Linked DNA regions of Homo sapiens. The protein of the gene in region 2 interacts with the protein of the main gene of each other region in a pairwise test. Each region holds a gene or a part of one and is shown on either strand. Other genes may lie near its edges.

What was found.
Region 1: the proteins of MAPK13 (region 2) and ANKLE2 interact in a two-hybrid assay, tested with the Homo sapiens proteins (one study listed by BioGRID and IntAct).

The regions. Positions count from the first base shown.
Region 1 is NC_000012.12:132,758,457-132,766,028, reverse strand, and holds the start of ANKLE2 (ankyrin repeat and LEM domain-containing protein 2), read left to right. Parts: upstream 1-4,196; 5' UTR 4,197-4,230; coding exon 4,231-4,411; intron 4,412-4,873; exon of another isoform or gene 4,874-4,952; intron 4,953-7,572. UniProt on the Homo sapiens protein: Involved in mitotic nuclear envelope reassembly by promoting dephosphorylation of BAF/BANF1 during mitotic exit.
Region 2 is NC_000006.12:36,133,504-36,141,069, forward strand, and holds part of MAPK13 (mitogen-activated protein kinase 13), read left to right. Parts: intron 1-2,249; coding exon 2,250-2,358; intron 2,359-2,515; coding exon 2,516-2,545; intron 2,546-2,980; coding exon 2,981-3,028; intron 3,029-3,152; coding exon 3,153-3,267; intron 3,268-3,375; coding exon 3,376-3,447; intron 3,448-4,861; coding exon 4,862-4,941; intron 4,942-5,198; coding exon 5,199-5,277; intron 5,278-5,375; coding exon 5,376-5,552; intron 5,553-5,790; coding exon 5,791-5,870; 3' UTR 5,871-7,566. UniProt on the Homo sapiens protein: Serine/threonine kinase which acts as an essential component of the MAP kinase signal transduction pathway.

The DNA of each region.
Region 1 (7,572 bases), on a different chromosome or scaffold from region 2:
ATGGGGTTTCACCATTTTGTTCAGGCTGGTCTTGAACCCCTGACCTCAGGTGATTCACCTGCCTCTGCCTCCCAAAGTGCTAGGATTACAGGCATGAGCCACCGCGCCCGGCCCACAGTGAAATATTTTTGAGTGTCATGTCTAAATGCCCTGAAACCCAGAGAAGGACAATCTTGTCTCTGCTCGCGGAGCCTCCCACAGCACTTCAATTGTTGCAAGATTTCCTTCTGAGCGTTAAACGTGCATTTCTGGAGACTGGATAGATACGTCAAGTGTATCTTCCCAATGCTTTCAAAAATGCCCCCATCTTCACCCAGAAAACAGACCCCCCCCCCCCGCCACCTGCCTGTCCCTGCAGCTGGGCGTCTGATGGTCACGGCCGTAGCTCCCCTGAAACCCCTCATTCCCCTGCATCAGCCCAGGTCCCACCAGGTTCTGGAGCCTGTACGTTTCCACTCAGGGCCGTTATCTCCACCTGAGGGCCTCTGGCGTCCTGCGGTTGCCGTCCCTGCCCCTGCATTTCCTCTGCTGAACCACTTGGCCTGGGCTGTTTTCCTGACTAGACCCTACTGTATGTAACATACGGCTGGGTTTCTACAAGTGCTAAATAGCCATTGATAACAAACTTAATAGACACACGGCCTTTAAGGAAATCCAATTAATATTGAAAAAGAAGGGGAAGAAAAGAAATTAGCTACTCCCTGCTCATCTAGGGCTTTTCCCAGCACGTTGGGAGTAAATCCTCGAGCTGTGAGACTTCAGCTTCCGCTCAGTCCCTGGGGCTCACATGGCCCCTTTGTGATCTCGGATCAGAAATGAAGTAGAAGTTAAATTACAACTAGGAATAAAATCAGGGCTGGGCGCAGTGGCTCACGACTGTAATCCCAGCACTTTGGGAGGCCGAGGTGGGCGGATCATGAGGTCAGGAGATCAAGACCATCCTGGCTAACGCGGTGAAACCCCGTCTCTACTAAAAATACAAAAAATTAGCCGGGCGTGGTGGCGGGCGCCTGTAGTCCCAGCTACTGGGGAGGCTGAGGCAGGAGAATGGCGTGAACCCGGAAGGCGGAGCTTGCAGTGAGCCGAGATCGCGCCACTGCACTCCAGCCTGGGCGACATAGCAAGACTCCGTCTCAAAAAAAAAAAAATTCAGAACGGCTCTCAGAAGAGGCCATTGATTCTAATAAGCTTCATTTTGTTCATTCACCGGAAATCTACTTCTACCTGCAGGAGTTTACGTCTCAAAGTTTTTCATTTCTACCTAAACAGTAGCTAATATAGGGTTGGCTTCTGAACAGTGGAGTTGTTCTCCATGTTTTCCTGTGATTGTTCCTTTCTCATTTAACTGGGAGTGGATGCATTACATGGGGGTGAGGGCATGGCCCTATCAGGACCCTGGCTGCTTACCTGGATTCCACAGAAGTCCTGGTGTCAAGGCTGGTGGAGCTGCTGCACCAGAGACCCTCAAGCATGAAAACAGGATTGACCAGGACAGCCTCACGGTGCCGAGAACGAAAGTGCCTTCCCTCTCCGCTAATCCACAGCGTCCACCTGCCCGAGAACAGCTCTCCCAGTCCCACCTTCCGTCCCGCTCTGAGGTGAGCGGGGAGAGAAAAGACAGGAATGCGCATTGTGGGCGCTTGGGCTCCGTGGCCGCGTCCATCACCGTCCGTCCACTCTCCGCTGCCTTTGCTTAGTCATGTGGTCGCTGGATGTGTTCAGGAGACGGCAGCGTCTCCACAGCCCACTGAGAGCTTCTGTAACTAAGAAAAAGCTCTTAATAACTTAATGGAGAGTGGACGCTGGGTGTCAACAGCTGACTACAGCTGACCATTTAACAAATCGGCTCTAAAGCCCTTCATGTATGGAGGCTCCGTAACGAGGACTTACATAATTACCTTTTTATGTATGTATGTACGTACTTGTTTATTTATTTATTTTTGAGACAGGGTCTCTCTCTCCCAGGCTGGAGGGCAATGGCGCAATCTTCGCTCACTGCAGCCTTGACCTCCCAGGCTCAAGTAATCCTCCCTCCTCAAGGCGTGTGCCACCACGTTCAGCTAATTTTTTAAATTTTTAGCACAGACAGCGTCTCGCCATATTGCTCAGGCTGGTCTCCACCTCCTGGGCTCAAGCGATCCTCCTGTCTCGACCTCCCAAAGTGCTGGGATTACAGGTGTGAGCCACCGTGCCCAGCCTTCTTGGGCCTCTTCTAAGGGAAGTATATAAGGCTCTGTCCCATGACCTATCACCTCCCACAAGCCCCACATCCTAATACCATCACCTTGGGGGTTAGGGTTTCTTTTTTTTTTTGAGACAGAGTCTCGCTCTGTCACCCAGGCTGGAGTGCAGTGGCGCGATCTTGGCTCACTGCAAGCTCCGCCTCCCGGGTTCACACCATTCTCTTGCCTCAGCCTCCCGAGTAGCTGGGACTACAGGTGCCTTCCAGCATGCCCGGCTAATTTTTTGTATTTTTTAGTAGAGACTGGGTTTCACCGTGTTAGCCAGGATGGTCTCGATCTCCTGACCTCGTGATCTGCCCGCCTCGGCCTCCCAAAGTGCTGGGATTACAGGCGTGAGCCACCACGCCCGGCCAAGGGGGGTTAGGGTTTCAACATACGAACGCTGGGGACAGACACTCAGAATACAGCAGAGGTGTACGTTTAACTTTGAAAGAAACTGCCTCACTATTTTCCAAGGTGGTTAACTCAGTGTTTGCTCTTGCCAGCAAAATTTGATATTGCCAATTTTTAAATTTTAGCCATTCTGGTGGATTTCAAGCAGCATCTCATCGTGGTTTGAATTTCCATTTCATCCATCTTCAAAATTACTGACCCTTTCTTCTGTAGTGCCCAACCAACCATTAGTACCATCCAATGATATTTTTTAAGAGATGGGGTCTTGCTATGTTGGTCAGGCTGGCGTGCAGTGGCTATTCACAGGCGAGATCACGCTCATGGCAGCCTCGAACTCCCGGACTGAAACTACCATCACCCCTCACGCTCCAGAGTTGCTGAGACTACAGACCTGAGCCACCTCGCTCAGATCAATTATGTTTTTAACCAAGGATATCAATTATATTTTTCAGGTCTTTCATTTTCATTTAATAATATCTAAATTAGGCGGGGCGCGGTGGCTCACGCCTGTAATCCCAGCACTTTGGGAGGCCGAGGCTGGTGGATCACTTGACATCAAGAATTCGAGACCAGTCTGGCCAACATGAGGAAACCCCGTCTCTACTAAACATGCAAAAATTAGCCAGGCGTGGTGGTGGGCACCTGTAATCCCAGCTACTTGGGAGGCTGAGGCAGGAGAATCGCTTGAGCCCAGGAGGCGGAGGCTGCAGTGAGCCGAGATCGCGCCACTGCACTTCAGCCTGGGCGACAGAGCAAGACACCGCATCAAAAAATAAATAAAACATCTAAATTACATACAGTAAAATCCTCCTTCCCTTTTTCGAGACAGGGTCTCACTATTAGGTTGGTGCAAAAGTAATTGCGGCTTTTACCATGACTTTCAAAATATTTGCCCGGGCTGGTCTCGAGCTCCCGGGCCGTGGGGATCCTCCCGCCTCGCCTCCCAAGGCGCTGGGACTCCGGACGCAGCCGCCGCGCCCGGCAAAATCCGCGCTTTCAACTGCGCGTCAGGGCCCCTTGGTGAAGGAGCGGGAAGCTCCGCCGGTCTCCATAGCGCCGGCGGCCTGTTCTGCGGGTTCGCGGGGGAGTGAGAGGCGCTTCCTCACTCCTGCTCCAGGACGGGACGACGGCCGCAAACAGTACTCGGGCTCGGAGCACACGAACCCGGAGGCCGCTTCGTTCTCGGAGACGCACAGCGCCCCACGGACGCCAGGCCGGGGCCGGGAGGCGCGAAGAAGCGCCGCCCCGCGCCCGGCCCCGCCCTGGTGGCCTCCCCGGGCCCCAGCCCCGGCCCCCGCCAGCACATTGCGCTCCCCGCGCCTCGCCGGTCCCAGGACCCCGCGTCGGGCTGCCCGCGCCCCGCCTGCCGCGCCCGCCCGTCCGCTCGCCCGTTCCCGCCCGCTTGGGTCCCAGGGCCGGGGCCGCGCCCTCGCCGGGCCTCCGCGAGCGGGGCCGCCGTCCGTGTCCCCCGCGCCGCCCCGGCCGCCTCGAGCGCGGCGCCGTCAGGCAGGGCGCGGGCAGCCCGGCGCGGGGTCCTGGGACGGGCGCGGCGCGGGGCGCGGGCTTCTCGGCGGCTGCGGCCCGGGCGGCGGCGATGCTGTGGCCGCGGCTGGCGGCGGCCGAGTGGGCGGCGCTGGCCTGGGAGCTGCTGGGCGCCTCGGTGCTGCTGATCGCTGTGCGGTGGCTGGTGCGGCGGCTGGGCCCGCGGCCGGGAGGTCTGGGCCGCAGCGGGACCCCAGTTCCTCCGCCAAGCGCGGCCGCCGCCCCCGCCTCAGGTAAGGCCCAGGCGGTCGCTGGGTCCCCGCACCCTGGCCCCTTCCCCGCCCCGACGCCCTCCTCGGGCCTGGGGTCCCGGCCGCGCCCCTGGAGCCGGCAGCAGTTGGGCGAGGCGGCCGGGGAAACCAGGGCCGGTCGGGAAAGGCCATTCCGGCCGCGGAAAGGGCAGTTGCGGGGACTTGGCTTCCCGGGCCGGGGGCGGAGGGGCCACGCCGGGTTCGGGGGTGAGAGCTTTCCCGGGCCCTGGAGCAGCCTCCGGGGAAGGCGGCGGGGGCCCGGCGAGGCGTTAGCGGAGACTCTTGCTGCGGTCTCTCGAGACCTGGGGAGGGATGGCCCAAAGGAGGGCGGCGCGGGGAGGAAACCCCTGGGTCCCGGATGTGTTTGGAACGTGAAGCCATTGCGGTTACTGGTCATGGAACATAAGGCAGAGACGGAAAAGGCAAATGTAACTCAGGGGTTTGGGGCCAGAGGAAGAGGGAGAAGGTGGCCATTTATTGCTTTGCGGTAGACTGTCGGGTCTGGGTGATGTGGAGATCAGAGGTGGGTTTTGGTCGTTTTAAGTTTGAGGTAACTGATACAGTGAACTGTGTATTTCAGCTCCATCCCCTTTTCCTGGCATACAACTCTTGAAATCCCGGGAACCTCCAAAGTGATGTCTTTTGTAGGCTGAGTGGACTGGTGGCCGGCAGCCCCTAGGGAGCTTCTGGATGGGGCTGGTCGCAGGAAAGACCAAGGCAGGGTTAGAGGTTCTGGGGACTTTCAGCCCCACCCCCAACCTCTGGGGAGGAGAGAGGGGTGAAGGTTGCGTTGATCACCAGTGGCTGATGAATCACGCCTGTGAAATGAAGTTCCTGTAAAAACCCAAAAGGGCTGGGTTCAGGGAGCTTCCAGATAGTACGTGGGGGTTCCTGGAGGCGGTGCCCAGAGAGGCCCTGAATTTCCAAGCGCTTCCCCCCGGTTTTACGTCACGCATCTCTTCACCTGTATTCTTTGTAATCCTTTATACTCTGCTGGTAAGTGTAAGTAAAACATGTCTGTGAGTTCGGGAGCCACTCTAGCAAATTACCGCAACCTGAGGAGGTCACCGGGTTACGCCCCGTCGGTCCCAAGCGCAGGTCAAACAACCTGGGCACTGGAAGTGGGGGGCAGTCTTGCGGGGCTGAGCCGTTAACCTGTGGGGGTCTGCTGGTATCTCCAGGAAGACGCTGTCAGAATAGATGACTGAATTAGGATGACAGACGACACCCAGCCTGTGTCCACTGCAGAACTGACGACCTGCGTGATTTGTGGGGAGAAAATCCCCACATACCTGGTGTCCGAAGCATGTTGCAAGACTAGTGGGAGAAACTGAGTTTGTTTTTACTCTAAATTGTCAGACTGTTAGTCACTGCGGAGAGGTGCTTTCTGATGATTGAGTGGGGATTCCTGTCCAATTGTGTGAGTTTGTGTCTCGGCCCTACCACTTTTTTTTTTTTTTTTTTTTGAAATGTAGTCTCGCCCTGTGGCCCAGGCTGGAGTGCAGTGGCGCGATCTCGGCTCACTGCAAGCTCCGCCTCCCGGGTTCAAGCGATTCTCCTGCATCAGCCTCCCGAGTAGCTGGGATTACAGGCGCCTGCCACCACGCCCGGCTAATTTTTGTATTTTTAATAGAGACGGGGTTTCACCATGTTGGCCAGGATGGTCTCGAATTCCTGACCTCAGGTGATCCACCTGCCTCAGCTTCCCAAAATGCTGGGATTACAGGTGTGAGCCATCGCACCGGGCCCTACCACTTATTGCTGTGGGCTTAACCTGTTTTCAGCCTGCTCTTTTAGGAATGGGGATGATAGTGATACCTGGTTAGGCTTTTTTGGGAGTTGGGTAAGTGCAGCACTTGGTATGTGTTAAGCACCTCTGAGTGCTGTTACTGTCACCAGCGGCATCATCCAGGCAGAGCTGCGGACAAGGTGGCGGCGGGTGAGGGTGGTGTTTTGAGAATGGCTGAAATAAAAAAATACTGATTTATTTTATATAAAAATATGTTTTTATATATGATGTATAATATACGTATATCATGGCATATGATACGTGTATATCATATAGCACATATAGTATACATATATATAGTCAGCAGAGATTTAGAGAAACTGGGCCTCGTGCATTGCAGGTGGGGACGGTAAGTGGTGCAGCTACTCTGGGAATCAGCCTGGCAGGTTTTTAGGAAGTTAAACCTGCCCTGCATTCCTGAGCTTTTATTAGACAAATGAAAACTATTTTCACACAAAAACCCATATTTAATGTTCATAGCAACTTTATTTGTAATTACCAGAAACTGAAATAACTCAAATGGTTAAACTTGCACACTGATACCCCGGGGTGCCACTCCGCAGCGATCCTCTCTGCCACGTGGGTGCCCCGGGGTGCCACTCTGCATGATCCACTCTGCCACGTGGGTGCCCCGGGGTGCCACTCCGCAGCGATCCTCTCTGCCACGTGGGTGCCCCGGGGTGCCACTCTGCGTGATCCACTCTGCCACGTGGGTGCCCCGGGGTGCCACTCCGCAGCGATCCTCTCTGCCACGTGGGTGCCCCGGGGTGCCACTCCGCAGCGATCCACTCTGCCACGTGGGTGCCCCGGGGTGCCACTCCGCAGCGATCCTCTCTGCCACGTGGGTGCCCCGGGGTGCCACACTGCGTGATCCACTCTGCCACGTGGGTGCCCCGGGGTGCCACTCCGCAGCGATCCACTCTGCCACGTGGGTGGATCTCAAGGGCATTATGCTGAATAGGAAAAGCCAGTCTCAAAAGTTGTGTACTTGGCCGGTTGCGGTGGCTCATGCCTGTAATCCCAGCACTTTGGGAGGCCGAGGCAGGTGGATCACAAGGTCAGGAGTTCAAGATCAGCCTGGCCAACATGGTGAGGCAGTCTCCACTAAAAATACAAAAAAATAGCGGGGCGTGGTGGCAGGTACCTGTAATCCCAGCTACTCGGGAGGCTGAGGCAGCAGAATTGCTTGAACCCAGGAGGTGGAGGTTGCGGTGAGCAGAGATCGTGCCACTGCACTCCAGCCTGGGCGACAGAGCAAGACTCCATCTCAAAAAAAAAAAAATTGTTAATGGAACATTATAACCCAGTGTTCAGACCTAGCTGTTTCTCACATCTTTACCCATCGATCTGTCAA
Region 2 (7,566 bases):
AGTAGCTGAGTGAGGTGGCAGAGGTGGAGGAATGGGCAGGTTCCTGCTTGAAATACACGGTAGAGGAAGAACAGATCTTGGGGGAAAGATAACGAACTCCATTTTGGACACTTTACTTTTAAAGAAACTGTGAACATTCCAATGTTTAATCACAGTTGCAAATAAATATGAACCTCAGGAGACGAAGGTCTGGGCTAGGGATGTGGATTTGTGCTGGAATAATCACCGATGGGTTATAGCTGACACCCGGGAACAGATAATTGTAGAATGTGGTAAGATAGTATTGATTCAGATATCAACATGAAAGAGAAGATCCAAGAGGATGAGCAGATGGAAGAAGCTGAGAGGGCCTGATAGGAGGCAGAGGAGAGTCAGCAAAGAATTGAGAGGGAGTTTCAGACTTGGTGAAAGGTTAGATCAGAAGAAAAGGGAGTCATGGTGTGTTTGTCGGGTGTTCACTGGTGACCTTGAGCTGAGCAGTCTGGCAGTAGGAGGGAAGCAGAAACCAGGTTAACTCAGGACTGGGAGGTAAGGCAGTGGGATCCAGGAGTGTGGACCGCCCTTTCTAGAAGTTTGGTGGTGAGAGAGGGAGAAGGGGTGGTCAGTTGAAGAAGCAAAGTCAAGGGAATGTGGTTCTAGCACAGAGAGGCTTCAGGAAGCATGTTGCCAAGATGAAAGAACCAGTGCCCGAGTGGAGGGGAAAGACACAGGAGGGGACTGGGCATGGAGAGGCCCCCAAGGGAGGTGTGTGGTCCGGCAGGAGAGGGCTGCCAAAATCCAGAGTCTCCTGGAGATGCCTCCAGCATGTCCTTTCAAAAACAACAACAACAACAACAACAAAAAACACAACCTATTACATAATTGTTTAAGGTAACATTCATTTTAAAAAAGTTTTAAATTTATTATATTCTAGAGATAGGGCTGGGTTGCCCAGACTGGAGTGCAGTGGCACAAACACAGTTCACTGCAGCCTCCAACTCCTAGGCTCAAGCCATCCTCCCGCCTCAGCCCCCCAAGTAGGTGGGACTACAGATGCATGCCACCATGTCCAGCTTTTTGTTTTGTTTTAATTTTTATAGATATGGGGTCTCACTATGTTACTCATCCTGATCTCGAATTCCCGGCCTCAAGTGATCCTCCCACCTCAGCCTCTTGAGTAGCTAAGACTAAAGGTGCATGCCACCACACCTGGCTAATTTTTTTTTTTTTTTCTGAAAGGTGGGGTCCAGGCCGGGCATGGTGGCTCACGCCTGTAATCCCAGCACTTTGGGAAGCCGAGGCAGGCAGATCACCTGAGGTCAGGAGTTCGAGACCAGCCTGGCCAACATGGCAAAACCCCGTCTCTACTAAGAATACAAAAATTAGCTGGGCGTTCTGGCGTGCACCTGTAGTTGTAGCTACTCAGGGAAGCTGAGGCAGGAAAATCGCTTGAACCTGGGAGGTGGAGGTTGCAGTGAGCCAAGATCACGCCACTGCACTCTAGCCTGGGCGACAGAGCAAGACTCCATCTCAAAGAAAAAAAGAAAGGAAGAAAGAAAGATGGGTCCCTATGTTGCTCAGGCTGGTCTTAAACTCTTCGCCTCAAGCGATCGTCCAGCCTCCATCTCCCAAAGCACTGGGATTGGAGGTATGCCCCTGGCCTATTTTATAATTTTTATTATTTTTTGTCTTTGTCCTGGTCTTTGCTTTTACTGTAACAGTTACATTTTGCTGGCCTTATCCTGTTGTGCAATCCCCTAAGAGGCTGCAGGAGCCTCCCCATCTCCCTCTTCCACCCTCCTGGAAACTGTTGTATTGTTTCCTTCTTGGAAAGGTAGACATATTGTTTGTTTGTGGAGCCATCTCAGCTGGGCATGACCCTCTGAGGGATCAAATATTTGGACAGAAGCCGAAGGAAATACTGGCAGATGTTTCTAACTCCTAGCTGTGGCTTTCCCTGGGGTGTGGAGGAGGGCAAGGAGAGAGTACCTTTGAAGAGCGGGAACACAGTTCCATGTGGCTTTCCTGAGCGCGCTCCAACTGCAGCGCTTACTCCGAGCTCTGCCAGCTGGGCGGCCCGCCACAGGGAGACTGGGAGCCAGGAGCCCAGAGGCCCGTGTGGTGATCTGGCTGGCTGAGGTGGAGTTGAGTTTTTGCACACTGGAGGGTGTCTCTATGACCCCTGTTCTGCCCTGAGGTCCCTCCTCTGAGCTCTGACCTGGGGCTGGGTGGGACCCGGCACTGTTCCAAGAACCCCTCATGCCTTCCAGCTACCTGGTGATGCCCTTCATGCAGACGGATCTGCAGAAGATCATGGGGATGGAGTTCAGTGAGGAGAAGATCCAGTACCTGGTGTATCAGATGCTCAAAGGCCTTAAGGTGGGTGGGGACTTGGAGGCTGGCAGAGGGGACGCCTTGCTGTCTAGACCTGAGGTTTGGGGAGGCTGGAGGGAGCGCACTGTTACAGGTCGGCCAGCCTGAAGTGCCTGGTGTGGAAGCTGGGCCATGGACTCACCCTTCTCTCTCTCCCACATAGTACATCCACTCTGCTGGGGTCGTGCACAGGGTGAGTGCTTTCTCTGCCATGGTCCTCAGAGGCCCCTGTCCCATCCCTGGGTATGGGGTTCTCTGGCAATCAAGGAGTGGGAAAGTTGGAGGGAGGGGACACTGCCCAGGAGCACAGAATGTGGAGTTTTCACACCCAGCCACGGCCCAGGAAGGCCTGCTCAAAAGAGTCACTGTGTCCCAGGGGACTTCATGGGGAATTGCTGCAGACAAAGTGAGCCCTGAGCTGAGTGTTTCAGGCTTCAAGAATCAGGAACATTTTAGAGCTGGGTGGGCCCTGAGAGAACACCTAGTCCAACCCTCATTTTACACATGAAGAAACTGAGGCCCAGAAGGGGAAGGGGCCTGGCTGAGGTCACACCCCTGGGTGGTGGTGGAGCTAGGACAAGCTCCATCTCTGCCTCAGCCTAGCATGCATTCTCTGTCCTCCCCCCAGGACCTGAAGCCAGGCAACCTGGCTGTGAATGAGGACTGTGAACTGAAGGTGAGTGGGCTGCAGGCTCAGCCCAGAGGCGGGATAGGCCCTCCCCCAGGGAAGCCCCTGGAAGCCGCTCCCAGAGCCTCCTCCCCTCAGCAAGTTCCTTTTCTATTTATCCCCTGTGCCATAGATTCTGGATTTTGGGCTGGCGCGACATGCAGACGCCGAGATGACTGGCTACGTGGTGACCCGCTGGTACCGAGCCCCCGAGGTGATCCTCAGCTGGATGCACTACAACCAGACAGGTCAGTGGTCAATGCCTGAGAGGGCGGTCCTGGGGCCATCTGGTCACTCGGTGCTGACTGACTGCTGGGCCCCAGACAGTCCAGGTGACACTCTCCCTCCCTCTGCAGTGGACATCTGGTCTGTGGGCTGTATCATGGCAGAGATGCTGACAGGGAAAACTCTGTTCAAGGGGAAAGATTGTATCCTTTGCTGGAAAAGCCAAACTCCATCTAGGGATTCCTTCCTTCAACAGACACTTTATTTAAATAACTGTCTTTTTTTTCTTAATGTGAGAGTGATACATACTCCCTGTAGAATAATTTGTAAATGCAGATAAGGCTGGACGCAGTGGTTCATGCCTGTAATCCCAGCACTTTGGGAGGCTGAGGTGGAAGGATCCTTTGAGCCCAGGAGTTTGAGACCAGATGTGGCAACATAGGGAGACCCCATCTCTAAAAAAGTTTTTTAAATTAGCCAGACATGGGCCTGGCGCAGTGGCTCATGTCTGTAATCCCAGCACTCTGGGAGGCTGAGGCGGGCAGATCATGAGGTCAGGAGATCGAGACCATCCTGGCTAACAAGGGGAAACCCCGTATCTACTAAAAATACAAAAAATTAGCCAGGCGTGGTGGCAGGCGCCTGTAGTCCCAGCTACTCAGGAGGCTGAGGCAGGAGAATGGCGTGAACCCAGGAGGTGGAGCTTGCAGTGAGCTGAGATCGCGCCACTGCACTCCAGCCTGGGTGACAGAGCAAGACTCTGTCTCAAAAAAAAGAAAAAGAAAAATCCCAGCTACTTGAGAGGCTGAGGTGGGAGGGTTGAGCCTGGGAGGTTGAGGCTGCAGTGAGCTATGATTGTGCCACTGTACTCCAGCCTGGGTGACAGAGGGAGACCCTAACTCAAAAAAAAAAAAAAAAAAAACAAAATGTTGGGTGGGCATGGTGGCTCACACCTATAATCCCAGCACTTTGGGAGGCCATGGCAGGCGGATCACCTGAGATTAGGAGTTCGAGACCAGCCTGGCCAACGTGGTCAAACCCCATCTCTACCAAAAAATACAAAAATTAGCCGGGTGTGGTTCACGCCTGTAATCCCAGCTACTCGGGAGGCTGAGGCAGGAAAATCGCTTGAACCCAGGAGGTGGAGGTTGCAGTGAGCCAAGACTGTGCCACTGCACTCCAGCCTGAGTGACAGAGTGAGACCCTGTCTCAAAAAAAAAAAAAAAAAAAAAATGTAGATAAGCAAAATGATGAAAAATTCTACCACTACGTGGAAAATACATTTTGGCACGGCACACATTAACTGAGTACCTGTGTGTGCAGGGCAGGCCTTTGGTGAGAAGACGAGGAAACAGAAAAGAGTCACTGGGATGAAGGCTGAGAAGTCCACATCCATTTGTTGGGTAGGGACCCCCCTCAGCCTGGCACGTTGGAAAGCTCTCCAGAGCCCTGAGCCCTGAAGAATAAGCCTCCTCCTGAGAGCAGGAGGTGGTTAGGCAGGGCTGGAGCCTGGATGATCAGTTGCCATGGTGCCCGGGTGAAGTGATGGTGGGGTCGCAGGAAGGGCAGTCTCAGACCCACCAGGAGAGCAAGGCTAAGCCTTAACCTGCCACCAAGACCTGGACCAGCTGACCCAGATCCTGAAAGTGACCGGGGTGCCTGGCACGGAGTTTGTGCAGAAGCTGAACGACAAAGCGGTGGGTGGTAAATGGGACCTAGGCTGGCCTGGGCTGTGTGCTTGCCTGACGTGGGCCCAGTGGGCTGCAGGCCTTTGTGGAAGAAGGCTCACCAGCACCTTCCCACAGCATCCTCCTACCCTGGCAGGCACTCTTGTCTTAATCTCACCGTGGACCCTGACCTGAACTTTCAGCCCTGCTCTGAGGCTTTTCTGAAATCCCTGCTCTACACGCTGAGGCCAGAGCCCTAAGGGGTTTGATGCTTTTCTGTCTTCCAGGCCAAATCCTACATCCAGTCCCTGCCACAGACCCCCAGGAAGGATTTCACTCAGCTGTTCCCACGGGCCAGCCCCCAGGGTGAGTCTCAGAGCCCGCTCCCCAGGGGCCTCTCAGCGTATCCCAGAGGGCGGGCTCTCCCAGCCCCTGGTGTGAGGCTCTTGGCTCTGCCCCTGCAGCTGCGGACCTGCTGGAGAAGATGCTGGAGCTAGACGTGGACAAGCGCCTGACGGCCGCGCAGGCCCTCACCCATCCCTTCTTTGAACCCTTCCGGGACCCTGAGGAAGAGACGGAGGCCCAGCAGCCGTTTGATGATTCCTTAGAACACGAGAAACTCACAGTGGATGAATGGAAGCGTAAGAGCTGGGGCCTCGGGCTTCCTCGCCTCCGCCTGCAGCCTCTCTTCCTTGCTTCCTCCATCTTTGTGCCTGGCCTCTGCCAGCCCTACCTGCCACCTCCTTCTTGGTGGGCATTGTCTCCTGGGTGCTTCTTTCTCCTTGAGCTGACTTCGCTCTCCATGCTGTCTCTGAAGGGGGGTGGACTTTCTCGCCACAGCACCTCTTTACGCACCTTAAACCATGCTGCCTTTCTCAGAGCACATCTACAAGGAGATTGTGAACTTCAGCCCCATTGCCCGGAAGGACTCACGGCGCCGGAGTGGCATGAAGCTGTAGGGACTCATCTTGCATGGCACCGCCGGCCAGACACTGCCCAAGGACCAGTATTTGTCACTACCAAACTCAGCCCTTCTTGGAATACAGCCTTTCAAGCAGAGGACAGAAGGGTCCTTCTCCTTATGTGGGAAATGGGCCTAGTAGATGCAGAATTCAAAGATGTCGGTTGGGAGAAACTAGCTCTGATCCTAACAGGCCACGTTAAACTGCCCATCTGGAGAATCGCCTGCAGGTGGGGCCCTTTCCTTCCCGCCAGAGTGGGGCTGAGTGGGCGCTGAGCCAGGCCGGGGGCCTATGGCAGTGATGCTGTGTTGGTTTCCTAGGGATGCTCTAACGAATTACCACAAACCTGGTGGATTGAAACAGCAGAACTTGATTCCCTTACAGTTCTGGAGGCTGGAAATCTGGGATGGAGGTGTTGGCAGGGCTGTGGTCCCTTTGAAGGCTCTGGGGAAGAATCCTTCCTTGGCTCTTTTTAGCTTGTGGCGGCAGTGGGCAGTCCGTGGCATTCCCCAGCTTATTGCTGCATCACTCCAGTCTCTGTCTCTTCTGTTCTCTCCTCTTTTAACAACAGTCATTGGATTTAGGGCCCACCCTAATCCTGTGTGATCTTATCTTGATCCTTATTAATTAAACCTGCAAATACTCTAGTTCCAAATAAAGTCACATTCTCAGGTTCCAGGTGGACATGAATTCCAGGGGGAAATGATTCAACTCACTACAGACAGCTGGGAGGGAGGGGCCCCTTCCTGGGCCCCGTGCTGAGGCCTTGTGCTCTGTGAAGGAACCCAATGTGTTTGGCTGCTAAATTAAGGGAGTTGCAGAGAGAGCTGCAGCTGGTGCGATTGCATTCAGGTTATTTTGGGTGAGTGATAAGCAATCAAGATATGAAACAACAGCAGGCTCGGAGACTGCGAGCTGCACAGGCAGAAATGGGCTCTTGCCTGGCTTGATGGCAAACCGTTCTGCTCCCTTTGGGAGATGGCACAGCTCTCCAGAGCTTTGACCTGACAGTGGCTAGAACCTCTCTGTTTTTATCTGAGAAACTTTGGCAGAACAAATTTCCATGTGCACAAGCTGTCGGGCACAGTGGGTCTCAAATTTCCTTGTGCACCAGGGGACTTGTTAAAATGCAGATTCCTGGGCCCCACCCCAGGGCTTGTGACTCAGCAGGTCTGCAGTTGAGACCTTAGAATGTGCATTTGAATGAGGACCTCTCGCCCTGACCCAAGCCTAGTGATTCTGATGGATATCAGACCATAGTTCGAGACATTTAGTGGATTTCAGTCATACTTGATTTGTTGGGAGGCCTAAATCAAAAACCTATAGGAGGAGACTGGGGGGCTTCAGATGGAGTTTCACACTCATCTTACAGGTGTTAAAACTGAGGCTCAGAAAGCTTTTTTTTGTTTGTTTGTTTGAGACAGGGTCTGGCTCTGTCACCCGGGCTGGAGTTCAGTGGCACAATTACATCTTACTGCAACCTCAGCCTCCTGGGCTCAAGCCATCCTCCCACCTCAGCCTCCTAAGTAGCTGGGACTACAGGTCTGTGCCACCCAGGTGCACCAGGACTGCAGGTGGCTAATTAAAACATTTTTTTTCTTTTTTGTATAGGCGGGGTTTCTCTATGTTGCCCAGGCTGATCTTGAACTTCTGGACTCAAGTGATCCTCCCACTTTGGCCTCCCAAAGTGCTG